2 separate regions of the Homo sapiens genome follow, and region 1 is linked to region 2. The links come from fine-mapping of genetic effects on gene expression. A gene starts in region 2. The other region holds a variant in brackets. All regions are shown on one strand. Distances are from middle to middle. Region 1 overlaps SLC9A8 (solute carrier family 9 member A8). Region 2 holds the start of RNF114 (ring finger protein 114).

The links. PIP is the estimated chance that this variant, and not a neighbour inherited with it, causes the effect.
Region 1: its variant is fine-mapped to the expression of RNF114 in whole blood (INTERVAL, PIP above 0.99). The same link has a PIP of 0.9 or more in lung.

The regions. Positions count from the first base shown.
Region 1 is chr20:49,877,904-49,887,630 of GRCh38, reverse strand. It overlaps SLC9A8 (solute carrier family 9 member A8), which reads right to left. Exons shown (of 16, transcript NM_015266.3): 12 at 9,568-9,650; 13 at 6,596-6,707; 14 at 3,565-3,785; 15 at 733-879. Among named protein-coding and RNA genes, the nearest start is that of MIR12122, 19 kb to the right of the region's middle. The variant A/G (reference allele first, on the strand shown) is at 5,464.
Region 2 is chr20:49,930,083-49,939,477 of GRCh38, reverse strand. RNF114 (ring finger protein 114) reads right to left here and starts at 3,081. Exons shown (of 6, transcript NM_018683.4): 1 at 2,926-3,081. The coding sequence starts at 3,065. RefSeq lists silencers at 1-86, 1,712-2,006, 2,292-2,586, 3,045-3,234, 3,801-3,880 and 1 more and an enhancer at 2,827-3,432.

The sequences.
Region 1 (9,727 bases), 52 kb after region 2:
ATTCAGAAAGGAGGAGGGAGCATGGCTTGAGGCTGAACATGTGGTCTCTGGAGTCAGACACAGTTAGCTCTGCTCCCAGTTATGCCCATATTGGCTGTGACCTTGCGGGGTTACTGCACCCCCTTAGGCCTCCATCTCCTCAGCTGTCAGGGACACAGCTGCATCCACTGCACAGGATGCTGGAGAAGGAAGCGGTCGTGGTCACAGTCACTGGAGCTGCCTGGCTCCTGGAAGAGCGCACACACCGGCAGCTCTCAGGCCTGCCGGAGAGTGGAAAATGGGCCTGCTCGGAAACAAAGCGGGCAGCAGCAGGAAGAGCCCCACCCCTACCCAAGGCCTCCAACTAAAGAGAGGCCAGCAGTGCCCCGAGGGACAGAACCAGAGCCCTGAGCTGGGGGCAGACTTGGGCCACAGCTTGAGGCCCTGGTATGTCTGAAATTCCTCAGCTCCGATTCAGTAGCTGATCAATACCCCGAGTCTATCATCCAGGAAAACCAAACTGTGTTAACAAATCTATTATTAACCTCGCACTAAATGTGGCAGCGAAGGAAAAACAGCAGATGCCGAGTTCCACAAGCACGTCCAGCCTCCAGATCGGGAGGCGGCGGCCTGGCGGGCCCACGTGAGCTTTCCTGCCTCCCCACTCTTCCTCCACCCCACCCTGGGCCACCGCAGGTCCTGAAGGAGGCAGGCAAGGGACCCCCAGAAAGTGTGGCCTGGCCGGTATCCCACCTCCTGCGTCAGCCTCCGAGTGAAGAAGGGGTTCAGGTACTTGGCGTCCAGCCACACGAAGCCCTTAAGGTCCTGCCGCCTGATGTAGTGGGCCTCGTACTCCTCCTCCGTGAGCTCCGACAGGTGCTCCGACTCCACAGTGTTGCCCTGAGCAGGGAGGAAAGGCGGCCCGACGGCCACCAGCTGGCACCATCGGGGGGCACCTCCTGGAAGCCCCCACACCACCCAGGCCGCCAGTGTCCCCAACCCTAACTCCACTTGACCATCAATGCAGGGTGACGGGCAGCAGACGGCCTCCTGGGAGCCTGCAGGGAGGCAGGAACGTCCATCAGGGCACAATGGATGCCCAGGACCCCACCTAGGACAGCTAAAACAGAAGGACTGGGCCAGGCTGGGGCTTGGTCTTTAAGCTTTTCAAGCTTTTGGGTGATTCTATCATGCAACCAGGACCAGAACTGCTGTTCTGGGCTTTTCATTAGCAGCAAATCGCACAGGGAGGCTTTTTGTCTCTTTGCCTGTGGCTCTATTAGCTAGGACTCCACCGTGGACAGGCTTTTGCCAATCAAGTCAAGAGAGGAGAGGGGAGAGGAACACATCCTGTAGGAATTGGGGAGGGACGAAGAAAAGGACCCCATGTGGAGGGGAGAGACGGAGGTAAAGAGGCGGGACTCGGGTCATAGGTAGGAGCAAAGCAGACAGGCTCTGAGTGCAGCGCCTGCTCTGCTGGAGGAGTCTCAGTGGGGCCACAGTGAAGTGTGCTCTGCAGCTTCACTGCAGGTGGTGGGGAGGGGGACGGGGCAGGTGCAGGGAGGGCAGAGGATGGCCGGGGAGGGGAGGGCATTTAGATGCTGTGAAGCAGTGGTTGTCAAACACTGGTCTGTATTAGAATCTACCTGGGGGGCCTGTGAAACCACAAAATACTGAGCCCACCGCAGCCACCTGCAGAGGTGCTAATTCAGTAGGTCTGAATGGGCTTGGGAATCTGCAGATCTAACAGGTTTCCAGTGATGCTGCTAGTCTGGGGAGCCCATTTTGAGGACTGCTGATCAGCGTGGTAGTAAAGAGGACAGGCTCGGGAGTCTGTGCCCACAGCTGTCTGATTCTCTTGGTGCCTCGGCATTCTCATCTGCAAAGTGGGTATAATGAAAGCGCCAGTTTCTGGCAGGCTATGGGGACAATCTGAGATCATCCAAGGAAAACGCAAGCACACTGACTGCCACAGAAAACATTCCAGAAACTCAGCGGTTCATCCTCAGAGGAGCTGTCCTGTTTCTGCTAGTGCTGTGCTTCGCCAAGCGTGTTCACAGGATCAGCTGCAGCAGCACCACCTGGCAACTTGTTAGAAACGCAAATTCTTAGCCTGGACCACATGGTGAGACCCCATCTCTACTAAAAATAAGAAAAAATTAACTGGGTGGGGTCACGCCTGTCTGGAGTCCCAACTACTCCAGAGGCTGAGGTGGGAGGATCGCTTGAGCCCAAGAGGTCTGGGCTGCAGTGGGCCACGATCACGCCACTGCACTTCAGCCTGTGCAATAGAGTGAGACCCTGTCTCAAAAATAAATAAGAAGAAACACAAATTCTTTCGGACCCCATACCATACCTATGAGATGCTGGTGTGAGACCCAGCAGCCTGTGTGTAGCAAGCCCCCCACCGATTCTGATACCCAGAAAGGCCTAAGCTAGAGCTTTTGTGAAAAACAAAAAAGTTGGTAGATAGGGGGTGGGGGCAAAGGGCCTCTTAGTGTGGTGGAAGTTCTGCAGAGCCAGGCCTCACAGCCATCTGGAAGTTTCCTCCCAGCAGCACTGCACTGGGTGAGGGGCCCAGCTGAGCATGGAGATTGGAGGCCATGGTCTTGCCAGCCCTGACTCCAGTGTTAGCCGTGGATGGCCACGTGAGGACTCCTGGGCCTCTGATGACTGATTAAAGTTACTGAGGCCTAGAATACGGGAACTAGAAAGAGATGCATGTCCAGAAATGCATGGTGATCAGCAGGGGATGCTCTGGGCTGGAGCCTACAGCAGCCTCTGCTTCGGTCAGAGGGCCTAGCTTTGCACAGGGGTCCTGAGGGTGAAGACAGGGCGGGAAGGCAGCCTGGTGGCAGGGGCGGTGGCTTGTAGGAAGAAGAGGTGGGCAGGCTGCAGAACCTCAGCTCTCCCTACAGCTGGGGCCTGGGTACCTCCAGCCCCACACCATGTCTGTCCTTGGGGGAGTACCCCTCTCACGGCCCTCACAGCCACCGCAAGACATCCTCCCCTCCTCAGGCCCCCAACAGGTGGTTTTTAGTAAAACCATACTGGGGAATGACAGGATTTTGAAACCCTCAAACCTGGGCCCTGACAGGTGTCTCAGCTGCTGGCAGGGCAGAGGCACTGCTGTGGTTGTGGCACAGGTCCAGACTCCTGTGGTGCCCCATGGAGCTTCAGAGAGGGAGCAGATGGGGTCGTCCACAGCCCCCATGGCTGCGGCAGGTCACAAGGCCACCAGACACCCCCACCCCAAGAGCCATGCTTCAGAACTCAAGTTCCGTCACCTCCTTCTCAGGGGGGATGACCGGGGGGTGTGTGTGTGTGTGTGTGTGTGTGTGTGTGTGTGTGTGTGTGTGTGTCGTGTGTGTGTGTGTCGTGTGTGTGTGTGTCGTGTGTGTGTGTGTGTCGTGTGTGTGTGTGTGTGTGTGTGTGTGTGTGTGTGTGTGTGTCGTGTGTGTGGAGGTGCTGGGCATCCTCAAAGCAAGAAAGCAAGGCTCATCTCCCCATTTCCTGACAGTGGGGACCACCAGCTGCGTAGCAGGCCAGCCCCCTGCCCCACCCCCACAGGCGCATGGTACTAACCATCTTCTCAGTCTTGCTGAGGTTGACGTCCTTCTTGTTCCTGCGGTGTGCCTTGGCGTCCTCGATGTCCATGAGGCGAATGAGGGGCATGGTGCTGCCGCCCAGCAGCAGGATGGTGAAGAGCACGATGACGATGGTGGTGGTGCCGATGAGCTGCCGCTTCTCCATGGGCTCCAGGTCCAGGTGTAGGCTCAGGGCATAGGGGATGGCTCCCCGCAGGCCTGGGTGACAGCAAACAGTGTGAGAGGACACAGTGAAGAGGCAGCAGCTTCATGGGCTGGCTTCCCTGGAAATCCAGCCGGCCCAGCACCACGACCAGCTGACTATTCTAATGGCCCTGCTGAAGAGTGTGTGCTCACCCTGTGAGGCTTTGGGGTGTAAAGAGCAGGTGGCAGAGATGGGACCACAGACTCACCTCCATTCCAACATTGGCAGATCAAATGAGATGGCCTGCCCCAGCTACAGAGCCCCAGATGCGGGTGCGGGAGGACTTAGCAAGCCTGATGCTCGTGTCTTGGAAACTGCAGGACAGCTGCTGTGGGCTGAGCCCTCCCTGTGTGTGCGCCAGGCCTGGGCAGGTGCTCAGTGTGCAGAGCATCACTGGATCTTCACAGGAATCCTCACCGAGCAGCGCTACTCTTGTCCACAACACACAGATGAGGGATGGAGGCCAAGAGCAGCATGGCCCGCCCAGGGCCACTCAACTAATACCCACAACAGCACAAGATGCAATGTGTCCAGTACCCCTCCTATCTCGAGATGCTGTCCCTGTGGAGGCCCCTGGTGGCACTGATGGGGCTGTGGGCTGCTTAGGTGGTAATGACAGGCTGGCTGGTCCTCTGTGACGCTACTAGGGCACAACTGAGGGGCATGGACTGAGCTGGAAAACAGCACATTCCTCTGTTAGAAGTTTCCTGGCTTCCTTGGTGCCATACGGAGGGGACAGGCAGTCCTAGCCCCACCCTTGGGGAGCTCCTAGAGCAGCTGGGAGGAGGCACAGCAAATAAGGGGTGTGAAATGCTACCTGGAAGAGATGGTGGGGGGAGGGGGGTGGGGGGTGGGGGGGGGCATGGTGCAGACAGCACCAGGACCTTCCCCAGACAGGAAAGCGGGGAGGCTCACATCACCATGGGGTAGGGCAGCCAGGCTGCTGCAGGCCAGACCCAGATGGGGAGACGGCAGGGCAAGAGCAAAGGGCACATAATACAGAGACATGGTGAGGACAAGGGACTCTCAGCCTCTCTAAACCTGTCACGGGCCAGAGGATTCAGTGACACGGGACATGTAATGTGCTTTAACAGGGTGTGTACCCAGCAAGTGCTTAGTACCGGCTAGCCAGGCCACCGGGCAATTCAAAGTAGGATTTCTTGGGCAAGGGGGATGCAAAGGCATAGGGATGACAGCATCCCCACGGCATCCAAACAGGCAGCTGGAAACAGGAGTACGGATCCCAGAGGGAGGTCTGGGTTCGCGGGAACAGCTTTGGGACTAGGTGGAAGTGAAGGCCAGTGGACGGGTGAGCGCACTCAGTGAAGTGCAGAACACGTGAACAGAAGTGGGGCTGGGGCCAAGTCCTGAAGAAGCCACTATTTGAGGGGTCAGCGAAGGGGGACGAGCCCAAGGAGACGTCAAAGGAGAGAAAGGAGGAGCATGGCCCAGAGGCCGGGGAAGAGAGTGAAGTGGTCCTCGCCAGAAGGTAGGGGCAGTGGGAAGGAGGTAGGCTAGGACGGGGGCGGACGCCTCCCCTCCAGGTCTGGCTGCGGGAGGTCACTGGTGACCTGCCAAGGCCAATTCCAGCCCCGTGGACAGGCGGTGAAGAAGTGGAGAAAATGAGCGAGCACGGCTCACTCGCAAGGGTCTGGCCATGGCAAAAGAGGTGCGGACACAGCTGCGGGGGAC[A/G]TGAGGAGGAACTCTGGCTGAAGTTGCTGGTGTTTTGTGGGAAGGAGGAGAAGCTCTGATTGCTTAAATGATGATGGGAGGGGCCGGTAGCAGAGGCTTGTTCAGTGCCCCTCGTTGAGGATCCAGGAAAGCCTGGATGGAAACCCACAGAGCAAGAGCCCGGGGAGCCTGGGAGAGAACAGGAGCCGACAGCCCCCGCCATTTCAAATACACTCCAACCTTCCCCATAACGCTCTCTTATCCTCATGCCCCCCTTCCCAAATAGCCCACATCACTTCAAAAACCTCTGACACACTTCTGCAACCATTTACAAAGTAGTTTGCCTCACTGGCAAAAGAGATTAGGAAAAAAATGAGTTTTTCTCACCACATATAAATGTATATGTATATATACACATACGTACATATATATGAAACATATACATTTTTAAACATGGCCTTTTGAAAGAAGAGAAATCTGAGACAAACTTGCAGATATGCCTTTGGATAGAGAACATTATAGTGTGTTGCTATAACCCAACCCACACGGAAAATACTTTGATTATAATATTTAAGCAAGAAAGCATAAAGAACAGTATGTATTGCTCAAAAATAAATTTAAGGATGCCTATGGATCCAGTTCTTTAGAAGCAAAGATGTATGAAATCATTTCCGTCCTTTAAAAAGTGATTAAATAGCAACTGAAACATTCAAATTAAACTACTAGAACTTTGTGACTAAAAGGAAAAATATCCAAAACTAACATAAGGTATGAAACAGTTTCAACTTTCACCTTTTCTACCTTGAGACCATTATTACTTCAGCCTAGAAGACCCCCAGGGAGGCGCTGAAGCACGCCCAGCTGCATCCCGGACTGCACTATGGTGTTCAGAAGAGAGTGGCAGAAATCCCGGCTCTGCCTCCAGTGGTCACGTGACCCTGGGCATGTTGTTTGCCCTCTTCCAACCAAGCCTCACCCACTTCATAGCACCATGGTGAGGGGCACCATCTTGATTGCAGTGGGTGCCATTAAACGGGAGTATTGATTACTTGTGGTTTTGCCAAGGGCGCTAGCAGAGAACCACAGCTCTCCCTGTATGGGGCGTGCTTTTAACAGGTACTTCCCCACCCCATTTATCCAAGATTTGACTTACCACTAAACCACATGATGAACATCATCTTCGGTGTGATTTTATGATCCCGGAAGAAATTCAGGAGGTAGGAAAGAGGGAAAATGTTTACCGCTCTGCCAAATAGTACAAGCACCTGTTGATAGCAACAAACTAAGTCTTAGGTGAAAACATCTGGCTCTTCAAGCTGAAGCTTCTTGGATGAAGCTAATGCAGACTGTGTAACACATCCAGTACAAATGCAGTATTCCCCTCAGCCACAAAAGACACGAGCAACACCATGCTCGTCAGAGACCCAGCATGGGCGTGCTGCCACAGCTGCGGGATTCTATGCATCTAGGAAAGGATAAAGCTTTGTACGTTACCTTTCTTAGTAGCCAGAAAAGAGAGGACGGACGAGGTATCAGGAAGGGCTTTAGTAATGACAGCAGAACAAAACTGAATGCCAAGAGGCTGTACAGAAGTATTCACAGATTAGTTTAAGGGCAACCTGACTCCCAAGGTGCCCCTCCTTGGGACAGGGCTGCATTGATCATACCAGGACTAGGGGGACAGACAAGGTGTTTCTGCCTCTCCCTCAGGGAAAGGAGGGCAGCTATGAAGGACCTCCCATGCATGGAAACACTGCTCTCTGAGCAAGAGGAACGCAGAGGTAGGGACTATCAGGAGGCCACATGCCCCGGCTTAGCCTGCCAGCTGCTTGCTGTGGCTTTTGGTTCCTCTCCATCTCCAAAGGCATGTTAGTCTTGGCAAAGTACAGCTTTATGTAAAGTTTACATCTTTTTTTTTTTTTTTTGAGACAAAGTCTCACTCTGTCTCGCATGCTGGAGTGCAGTGGTGTGATTGTGGCTCAATGCAACCTCAACCTCCTGGGCTCCAGTGATCCTCCCACCTTAACCTCCCAAGTAGCTAGAACTACAGGTATGCACCACCATGCCTGGCTACTTTTTAAAATTTTTTAGTTAAAGATGAGGTCTTGCTATGTTGCCCAGGCTGGTCTCAAACTCCTGGTCTCAAGCAATCCTCCTGCCTTTGCCTCCCAAAGTGCTAGGATTACAGGTGTGAGCCACTGCACCCAGCCTAAAGTTTAAATCTTATCTAAGTGGATTCTTAGGACATTTATTACTTTACTTTCATTTTCTTCATCTTGGTTCTCACCATAACTACTTGAAAAGGATGATATAGACATGTACAGTACATTCTTTAGGCTTTAAGTTTATTCCTTTAACAAGCATGAATTTGAGAGTTTTTTTTTTTTTTGAGATGGAGTGCTGTGGCGTGATCTTGGCTCACTGCAACCTCTGCCTCCCGGGTTCAAGCAATTGTCCTGCCTCAGCCTCCCTAGTAGCTGGGATTACAGGCGTGTGCTACCATGCCCGGCTAATTTTTGTATTTTTAGTAGAGACGGGGTTTCGCCAAGTTGGCCAGGCTGGTCTCAAACTGCTGACCTCAAGTGATCCACCCGCCTCAGCCTCCCAAAGTGCTGGGATTATAGGCGTGAGCCACCATGCCTGGCCAAGAGTAAATGTTTCCAATCATCAAACATTTCTATGCCAGACAACATGCTAATCATTTTACATGCATTATCCTGCTAAATTTAAATCCTTGCAAAGGTCTTACAAAGTAGGTATTGTTGTCTCCAGTTTATAGACAAGGAAACTGAGGTATAGAGAGATGAAGTAATTGGTCCAAGTTGACAAGGCAGGAAGTAATGGATCCAAGTCTCAAATCTGGTTCAGACCCCAAAGCCCATGCTCTTGACCACTAAATTGAGTTTACAGGGCAGGAACTGTAACCCACCTGAATAGGCCATCTCCACTAGCTGCAGGGCCAGCCTGGGCCTAACTGCTTAGAGAAAACTGAGTTGTCACCCCAGGGCATCCTTTCATTTTCCTCCCAACCTGTGGCTGAAATAGTCACCTCCCTGTTTCACCCACTGAAATCCAATCTTCCATGCCTACACTTGTTTCAGGTTTGATCAAATGTGTCCCTTTTCCCCAGTGGCCACACTAAAGGCTATTATACTTTTTTTTTTTGAGATGGACTTTCGCTCTTTTTGCCCAGGCTGGGGTGCAAATGGCATGATCTCAGCTCACTGCACTGCAACCTCCGCCTCCCGGGTTCAAGCGATTCTCCTGCCTCAGCCTCCTGAGTAGCTGGAATTACAGGCGCATATCACCACGCCCGGCTAATTTTGTATTTTTAGTAGAGATGGGGTTTCACCATGTTTGCCAGGCTGGTCTCAAACTCCTGACCTCATGATCCGCCAGCCTCGGCCTCCCAAAGTGCTGAGATTACAGGTGTGAGCCACCGCGCCCAGCCTAGGCTATTATACTTTCTGTAAAGGACTTTTGCTGCTTCTCTCTTGCCCTGAAACCTGAGTTTGGAGGACAAATAACAGTGACCAAGAGCAATGAGCTCTTGCTGACTGAGAGATGGAAGTACCCAGGTTGCAGGAACAATATCTTATAAACAGACAAATAGACAAATATAAATAGACAAATTTGAAGAAAACTGCAGTAAGAAGTACATAATAAATTATCCAGAAAAAGCAGAAAAGAGAAAGAAATCCCAACTCTATGACCACTGTGAACATGTGGCTATATTTTCTTTACATATTTTCTTTTTTCTGTGCATAATATTTTTACATGGTTATGATCAATTACATATTCAATTTTGAAATCTGCTTTTACCTCCTCACACAAAAACTTACAAACCTGTACTTTTATTTAAAGACCATAATATTCAAGGCCATTAAAAATCTTAAAAAACAAGCAAAAGTCCTTTCTGGGGATATTTATTCACTTAATTCTACCCCTGCCCCCTTACTGTATGTTTGTGATTTTTTTTTTTTAACAAAAGAAACTTTAAACAAAAGAGTGTCTATGTAGCTGTTGACTTTGAACAGTTAACAGTTACATAAATGAATCCGGAACATGTGTTTATTGATCTACAAATAAGTAATTAAATTTAAAAAAAAAAAGGAAAATACTTACTATGCACCAGATGACAAAGGAAATTTCAAACTTGTGAGGAAAACTAAAAATGGACAGGCCAAGAAATGCAAACACACATGTTTCTGAAACAAACCAAAGAATGGATTATTCAACCCCAATGATTTCATTCCAATATGGTACTAAACTATTAAGCAAGCAA
Region 2 (9,395 bases):
AGACAGTATAACCAAATCTGCCAGAAAGAACTAAAGATATATAATGAAAGGCCATCTTCTGAACACTTGACCATTTTCTACTGCCTCTAAGAATCTCCTTCCTCCTTGTCATTAAGTTAGATGTTAATGCTGTTAGGCAAAATTCCAGACCAGGTACAGAGAAGGTGAGGGAGTCTATTCATTCACCACTGAGGGCAATGGAAACTTGACAAAGCCCTGTTCTCATGATGCTTACATTCTAGAGTGAAGGGAAACACAAATGTTAATTTCAGATAGTGATTAAAAATATGAAGGAAATATGGCAAACAGACCAGCTGGGGTGATCATAGAAAGCTGCTTCTGAGGAGTTGGCATTTGAGCTGGGTGGGACCTGATTACGAGGACAGCCACACAGATCTGGGTGCAGAGCTCCACACCAAGATCACGCCACACACAAATGAGGACTGGAAAGGAAGGCAGGCAGACCTTGGGGGCCATGATGCGGTAGACCATGGTGAGAAGGGCAAGTGATGAGGCAGTAGAGACAGGCAGGGCCTGTGGCCATCACTTGTGTTGCCTGTTCACAAAGGCAGATGACAAGAGGAACCCAAGAGAGCACAGAGGGTCCAGTGAGTATAATGGAACCAAACCCAGCATGCAGATAAAAGCAGCTCGAAGTCTCTTCTCAAGCACACACACAGGTACAGCTCATCTATCAAATGTTCACGAGTCACTTTGTGCCTGAGACATGCCCAAACTACCAGCCTGCTTTTGAACAACTCAAATATCCTGGGATGGCTTTTCAGTTTCTATTTCCTACTTATGCGCCCTTTTCTAGTTCAGCCTTCCGATGCTCCACTCCGTCACAGTGCTAGGAAGAAATTCCCTTCTCTTGGGCACCCAGCCAGCTGCCTTTCTCCAGCTGTATTCTACCAGATTGGAGAACACAGTCATTCAGGGCTTGAAATAAAGTTTTATAAAAATCCAATGCCCCAGCCAGAGTTGCAGTGATGCTCAACTTTCCAAGCACAAAAGGTAAAAATCAACTAGGCACAGGAGAAAGCAGTCGGTTGGAGCTAGCGGGGATTTGGGCTGCCCTCACAGAGGTGCTTCCATCTGTCTTCAATTTGCACTGAACTGCTGATCACGTGGGGCTAGGACAGCGAGGATAGAGAAGAGCCAAGGTTTGAAAACCAGTACTGTTCCTTGCCCTCTGACCTAGGAAAGGTTCACCAAGCTCAAGAAAATCTCAAATTTTGCTGCTCTTCATTTAGCAAACTGTGCTGGGTCTAGCCTTTTTACAAATGTTAATAGTAAATGAAATCCACTGAATTAATCCAAAATCAGGTAAATCTGATCCAAGGATAAGTGGATTCAATGAAAAAGCTAAAGACCACTTCAACTCTCGTGAAGCTTGCTTACACGACTTATTAGTTCATTCAACCATTACCTGATCACTCACCCCACGCACAGAGGTGTGATCCCTGAAATACCCTCCCACTTGCAGAATGAATTTTTACAATAGTTTGACCAGTCATTGGTACTTATTTATAATCAATTCACTGGACTGTAAACTCTGAAGGCAGAGTCTACCCCAAAATCTGGCACACAGAGGCCATTCCAGTCAGTTCAGGGGCAATAAAGATATGGCCACTCCGTCATGAGCTGTTAAGTTTTGCTCTGTGCAAGCAAGGAGAAGGAAGTTAAGTCCCAGAAAGGAAGTGGGGGAAGTAATTTAGATGGGGATGGTATTTGGTGAGGTAACTTAACCTGGGACTTGAAGCCTGAAAAGGGAGGGGTGGGGGGAAGAGTTCCAGGCTAACCGAATTGCAAAGATGAATAGCCTAAAGCAACATGATGAAGCAAAAAGCAGCCAGCTAGGTGCCAAGCACTGTTCTCTGGACTACTGAAATGGTCACCTGCAGTACATCTGGGAAGAGCTAGGCCACGGTGACCCTTCCCTAAGAGAGCCTCGGACCCTCAGTGTATTCACCTGTAAAATGGCTGCCAACCCTCCCCCGCTGCAGGGTGGCTATAGAATAATGCCCATGGAGTGCAATGGCTACTGTGCCCGCTGCCAAGACCAATGCCAAGGTGATCCCACGATAAGCACTGAGAGGGGCCAGAGGAAAAGCCAATTCTGAGGCAAGAAGCAGGTGGCCACGTTGTCTACAATTCTTTCAACTCAGATGTGTTTGTGCGTCTGATGGAACAAGGCTTAGATTCAAATCGACCAACCTGACCAACCTCGAAAGCCCCGGCCACAGCCCAGGACCTGGACTGGACATTTATACACATATCTGCTTTAATCATTATAACCACTCTATTCACAATATTCAGGTCATGAAGGCTTAATTGAAAACTGAAAGAAACAAACCTCCTACACAGGAAGTAGAATGCTAACAATCCCATCTGCCAACTCCCACCCCCCTTTCACAGCTAAGGGCAAACTGGCCAGATCCCCATAAAGACTTCCCTTTTGTTGTTTTAGTCTAGTTCAGCGTTTCTCCCGACTTTAGTGCACAGTAGAATAACTCGCCACAGCTAGACACGACGCCAAATGTCCTATGCTTTAAGAGCGACGTGGACTAGAAAGGAAACGTCGGCTCTCCAAGGGCGGACTTCGGAGCCTAAAGTCCCCGCAGGGCACGAGTCCACTATCACGTGTGGGAAGGAGACTGACAGGCCGCCTGGAACATCGCAGGCGCTCAACAGACAGCAGCTGCCCCGCTAAGACGGGCGGAGGAACGGGATACTTAGGAGTGAGCGGGGCGGGACAGAAGAGCGCCCCGGCAGCTTTCACGGCCCTTAGGAGCCCCGGGGGACACCCCCGGGAGGCCCCTCTGGGTGGGTCCTCTGGCTCCCGCCCTGAGACCCATCTCGCTCCTCGGCTCCATTCCCTTCCCAGTTAAGCGCCCCCCGACCAGGCCCGGGCTCGCCGCTTACACGTGTCCGCAGGGCACCTGTACCGGCTTCTCGTACACCTCTAAGCACACGGGACACGTGAAGCGTCCTAGGGGGTCAGCCTCCGCCGCCGGCCCCGCCAGCTGCGCAGCACCCCCGCAGTCCCGCTGTTGCGCCGCCATCTTGCTGCCGCTCTGCGCCGCGCAACGGCGGCCGATGAGGAGGAGGCCGAGGGGGCGGGGCTCGCGGGGCGGTGAGCGGTTGGGGGCGGGGCTAGCGGGTGGGCCGCCCCTCGGGGCCCCTCTGACGCAAGCGAGCTAGAGGCCGAGGGAAATCTGGAAAACGTGGAAGCCAAATCCAAAGGCTGCCAGAATTGGGACGGGCTCTGCGCGTGGGCCGCTGTTTTCCAAATTTATCGTTAGTTCGGCACCACTTGCACTATCACTATTTATCTTCGAATCAAGTTGCTTTTTCCTTAAATTTATTTATTTATTTATTTAATCTATTTTGGGACAAGGTCTTGCTTTGTCGCCCAGGCTGGTGTTCAGTGGCGCGCGCGATCATGGCTCCCTGCAGCCTCGACCACCGGGGTTCAAGCGATCCTCCCACCTCAGCCTCCTGCGTAGCTGGACCACAGGCAGTCACCACCATGCCGGACTAATTTATTTATTTTTGTATTTTTTGTAGAGACGGGGAAAGGAGGGGGGGAAGGAGTGGTGCAGAGAGCGGGCGGGTCTCACTGTGTTGCCGAGGCTGGCCTCGAACTCTTGGACGCAAGCAATCCGCCTGCCTCGGCAACCCGAAGTGCTGGGATTACAGCGGTGAGCCACAGTACCCAGCCATTTCTTAAATTTAAGCAAATTCTAATAACAGATCTAATTCCTGAGCTGCAAGAAGAAAATCAATATCATTTATTTATACAAAGGAGCTGGGCAAGGTGGCTTACTTCTGTAATCTCAGCACTTTGGGAGGCCGAGGTGGGCGGATCGCTTGAGCCTAGGAGTACTAGAGCAGCCTGGCCAACATGGTGAAACCCCGTCTCTACTAACAATACTAAAATTAGCCAGGCGTGGTTGCCCATGCCTGTAGCCTCAGCTACTCAGGACGCTGAGGCAGGAAAAGCCTTTGACCTGGGAGGCGAAGGTTGCCGTGGGCCAAGATGGCTCACTCACTCCAACAGTCACTAAACTCCAGCCTGGGCAACAAGAACGAAACTCCGTCTGAAAAAAAAAAAAAAAAACAAAAACACAACCTGGCTAACACGGTGAAACCCTGTCTCTACTAAAAATACAAAAAATTAGCCGGGCGTGGTGGCGGGCGCCTGTAGTCCCAGCTACTCGGGAGGCTGAGGCAGGAGAATGGCTTGAACCTGGGAGGCGGAGCTTGCAGTGAGCCAAGATCTTGCCACTGCACTCCAGTCTGGGCGACAGCGCGAGACTCCCTCTCAAAAAACAACAACAACAACAACAAAACAAAACAAAAAAACCCCAACAACAAAGTACATTCATTTCATATTGTGCAATCATCACCATCAGCTATCTCTAAAATTCTGGTCTTCTTGCTAAACTGAAACTGAAATTCTGTCCCCATTAAACAATAACTTCCTCTTCCCTCCTCCCATCCCCATACCCCCAGGCCCTGGCAATTTTCTGTCTATGATTTTGAAGCACTTATAGCTATAAAATTTCCCCTGAGCACTGCTTTCACTGTGTCCAGTAAATTTTGGCATGCTGTGTTTTTGTTTTCATTTGTTTCTCAATATTTTCTCTATTTATTTAATTAATTTATTTATTTTGAGATGGAGTCTCACTCTGTCGCCCAGGCTGGAGTGCATTGGTGCAATCTCTGCTCGCTGCAGCCTCCCTCTCCTGGATTCAAGCAATTCCCTTGCCTCAGCCTCCCAAGTAGCTGGGATTACAGGTGCCTGCCACCACGCCTGGCTAATTTTTGTATTTTTAGTAGAGACAGGGTTTCACAATGTTGGCCAGGCTGGTCTCAAACGCCTGACCTCAAGTGATCCGCCAACCTCGGCCTCCCAAAATGCTGGGATTACAGGTGTGAGCCACCCAGCCTGGCCTGTTTCTGAGTATTTTCTAATTTCCCTTGTGATTTCTTCTTTGATCCATTGGTTCTTTTAAGAGTGTGTAAATTTCCACAAATTTGTGAATTTTCCAGTTTTCCTTTGATATTGATTTCTTTTTTTTTTTAACCCCCCCATATTGATTTCTAGCCTTATCCAATTGTGCTTGGAGAAGATATTTGGTATGATCTCTTTTATTTCTTCTTTCTTTCCTTCTTATCTTTCTCTCTTTCTCCTTTTCTTCTGTCTCTTTTTGTAGAGATGAAGTCTGGCTGTGTTGCCCAGGCTGGTTGCAAACTCCTGGGCACGAGCAATCCTCCTGCCTCAGCCTCCCAAAGTGCTGGGATTACAGGCCTAAGCCACCACAGCTGGCTGATGTCTACCTTTTAAAATCTCTTGAGGCTTAATCTGTGGCCTAACATATGGTCCATCCTGGAGGATATCCCATGTGTGCCTGAGAAGAATGTGGATGCTGTTGTTGCTGGGGAGTGTCTGTACATGTGTTAGACCTGGTTGTCTTACTGTGTCGCTCAAGTCCTTTATTTCCTTACTTGTCTCCTGTTTGTTCTATTTATTCTTGGGAGTGGGGCATTGAAGTCTCTAACTATTATTGTGGAATTGTCTATTTCTTCCTTCAATTCTACCAATTTTTGCTTCATATGTTCTGATGGTCTGTTATTAGGTATATAAATGTTTATAATTGTTATATCTTCTTGCTGTATTGAACTTTTTATTAACATACAATGCCTTCTTTATCTCTTGTAACCTTTTGGACAAGTAATTTTTCTTTTTTCTTTTTTTGAGACAGGGTCTTGCTCTGTCGTCCAGGCTGGAGTGCAGTGGTGTGATCTCAGCTCACGGCAACCTCTGTCTCCTGGGTTCAGGTGATTCTCCTGTTTCAGCCTCCTGAGTAGCTGAGACTACAGGCATGCACGACCACGCCTGGCTAATTTTTGTATTTTTAGTAGAGACAGGATTTCACCATATTTTTTAGGCTGGTCTCAAACTCCTGACCTCAGGTGATGCACCCGCCTCGGCCTCCCAAAGTGCTAGGATTACAGGTGTGAGCTACCGTGCCCGGCCTGGACAAGTAATTTTTCTGATATTAGTATTGCCAGCCCTCCTCTTCTTTGGTCACGCAAAAAGATATTTGCATGAAATATCTTTTTCCATCCTTTCAGAACCAGTCTATAAAGTGAGTTTCTTATAGAGAGCAATACAGTTGAATCATGTTCTTTAAAAAAAAAAAAAAAAAAAGCTGGGTATGGCGGCTCATGCCTGTAATCTCAGCAGGAGGAGGCTGAGGCGGGTGGATCACCTGAGGTTAGGAGTTCAAGACCAGCCTGACCAACATGGTGAAACCCTGTTTCTACTAAAAATACAAAAATTAACCGGGCCTGGTGGTGCATGCCTGTAGTCCCAGCTACTTGGGAGGCTGAGGCAGGAGAATCGCTTGAACCTAGGAGGCAGAGGTTGCAGTGAGTGGAGAACGAGCCACTGGACTCCAGCCTGGGCAACAAGAGTGAAACTCAGTCTCAAAAAAAATTTCTTTTAAATTAATTTTTTTTTTTTTTGAGACAGAGTCTCGCTCTGTTGCCCAGGCTGGAGTGCAGTAGCACAATCTCGGCTCACTGCAAGCTCCGCCTCCTGGGTTCACGCCATTCTCCTGCCTCAACCTCCTGAGTAGCTGGGACTACAGGCGCCCACCACCACGCCCGGCTAATTTTTTTTGTATTTTTAGTAGAGACGGGGTTTCACCATGTTAGCCAGGATGGTCTCGATCTCCTGACCTCACGATCGGCCCACCTCGGCCTCCAAAGTGCTAGGGATTACAGGCGTGAGCCATTGTGCCCAGCCTAAATTTTTCCTTCCTTTTTTCCTTCCTTCCTTCCTTCCTCCCTCCTTCCCTTCCTTCCTTCCTTCGTTCCTTCCTTTGTTCCTTCCCTCCTTCCCTCCCTTTCTTTCTTTCCTTTTTTTTTTTTTTTTTTTTTTTGAGACAGAGTCTCACTCTGTCACCCAGGATGGAGTGCAGTGATGTGATCACAGCTCACTGCAGCCTTGACTTCCCAGGCTCAAGTGATCCTCCTGCCTCAGCCTCCTGAGTAGGTGAGACTACAGGCATGTGCCATCACACCTAGCTATTTTTTCTATTTTTTGTAGTGATGGGGTCTCACTATGTTGCCTAGGCTTTTTTTTTTCTTTTTTGAGACAGGGTCTGGCTCTGTTGCCCAAGCTGGAGGACAATGGCAAAATCTTGGCTCACTGCAACCTCCACCTCATGGGCAAAAGCCGTCCTCCCACCCCAGCCTCCCAAGTAGCTGGGACTATAGGCGTGCACACCACACCCAGCTAATTTTTAAATTTTTTGTAGAGACAGGGTTTCACCATGTTGCCAAGGCTGGTCTCGAACTCTTGAGCTCAAATGGTCCTCCTGTCTTGGTCTCCCAAAGTGCTGGGATTACAGGAGTCAGCCATCATTATTAAAATTTGTTTGCTTAAATTTAAGAAAGGGCTGGGCATGGTGGCTCACGCCTGTAATCCCAGCACTTTGGGTTGCTGAGGGGGGTGGATCACTTTTGTCCAGGGGTTTAAGACCATCCTGGGTAACACAGTGAGACACCCCACCACCCCCAACTCCCTCCCCCATCTCTACAAAAAATACAAAAATAAGTGGGAGGATCACTTGAGGCCAGGAGTTCAAGATCAACCTGGGCAACGTACCAAGACCCTGCTGTCTACAAACAAACAAACATAAAATTAGCTGAGTGCAGTGGCATGTGCCTGTAGTCTTAGCTACTCAGAGGAGGGTTGCTTGAGCCCAGGAGTTCAAAGCATCATTGAGCTGTAATCTTGCCACTGCACTCCAGTCTGGGCAAGAGCAAGACCCTGTCTCAAAAAAAAAAAAAAAAACAAAATTAATGCCAGGTGCAGTGGCTCACACCTGTAATCCCAGCACTTTGGGAGGTCAACATGGGAGGATCGCTTGAGGCCAGGAGTTTGAAACCAGCTTAATCAACATAGCAAGACCCCGCCATCTCTACATAAAAAAAACTAGCTACGTGTGGTGGTGCACACTTGTGGTCCCAGCTACTCAGGAGGCTGAAGTGGGAGGATTGCTTAAGCTCTAGAGATCGAGGCTGCAGTGAAACATGATTGTGCCACTGCATTCCAGCCTGACTGACAGAGACCCTTTCTCAAAAAAAAAAAAAAAAAAAAAAAAGGCCAGGCGCAGTGGCTCACACCTGTAACCCCAGCACTTTGGAAGGCCGAGGTGGATGGATCATGAGGGCAGGAGATCGAGACTATCCTGGCTAACACAGTGAAACCCTGTCTCTACTAAAAAATACAAAAAAATTAGCCGGGCCTGGTGGCGGGTGCCTGTAGACCCAGCTACTCGGGAGGCTGAGGCAGGAGAATGGCGTGAAGCCAGGAGGCGGAGCTTGCAGTGAGCTGAGACTGCACCACTGCACTCCAGCCTGCGCGACAGAGCAAGACTTTGTCTCAAAACAAAACAAAACAACTAAATAAAATATAAAATTCTATTCCCCAGTCTTACTAGCCATATGTCTAGTGCTCAATAGCCACAAGTGACTCGTGGCTACATATTGAAAAGATCAGACACAGAACATTTCCATCGTTGCAGGAAGATCTATTGGACAGCGCTGCTATAGATACCCTCATGCATGTGAGACAGCTACATGCACACGGATATCCAGGACAGCGTTGTCACACTAGGAAGATACTGGAAGCAACCAAAATGATGATTGGGGGTGATTAAACAAATGCAATAGATATAATTACTAGTATATCAATTCCATGAGGTCAGGAGGTTTTGTCAATTTTGTTTACTGCTGTTATCTTCAGCTTCCAAAATAATGCCTGGTGCATGCTAGGTAATTACATAAATATTTGTTAAATAAATATGAAGCTGATATTGAATCATCTCATATATATATATATATATAAAACTTTTTTTTAAAATGGAGTCTCGCTCTGTCACCCAGACTGGAGTGCAGTGGCACGATCTCAGCTCGCTGCAACCTCTGCCTCCTGGGTTCAAGAGATTCTCCTACCTCAGCCTCTCGAGTAGCTGGAATTACAGGCATGCGCCACTGCACCTGGCTAACTTTTGTATTTTTAGTAGAGACGGGGTTTCACCATGTTGGCCAGGCTGGTCTTGAACTCCTGACCTCAAGTGAGCTGCCCACCTTGGCCTCCCAAAGTGCTGGGATTACAGGTGTGAGCCACTGCACCTGGCCCAAAAAATATTTTTAATTAAAACAACATCAAGATGCCAAGTAATGCAACTAATATATGTATATGTTTGTATATGATAAATAGATGCCTTTGGAAAGTAGGGTGACCAAGTGTCCAGGTTTGCCTGGGAGTGAGGGGTTTCCCAGGATGTGAGACTTTCAGTGCCAAAACTGGG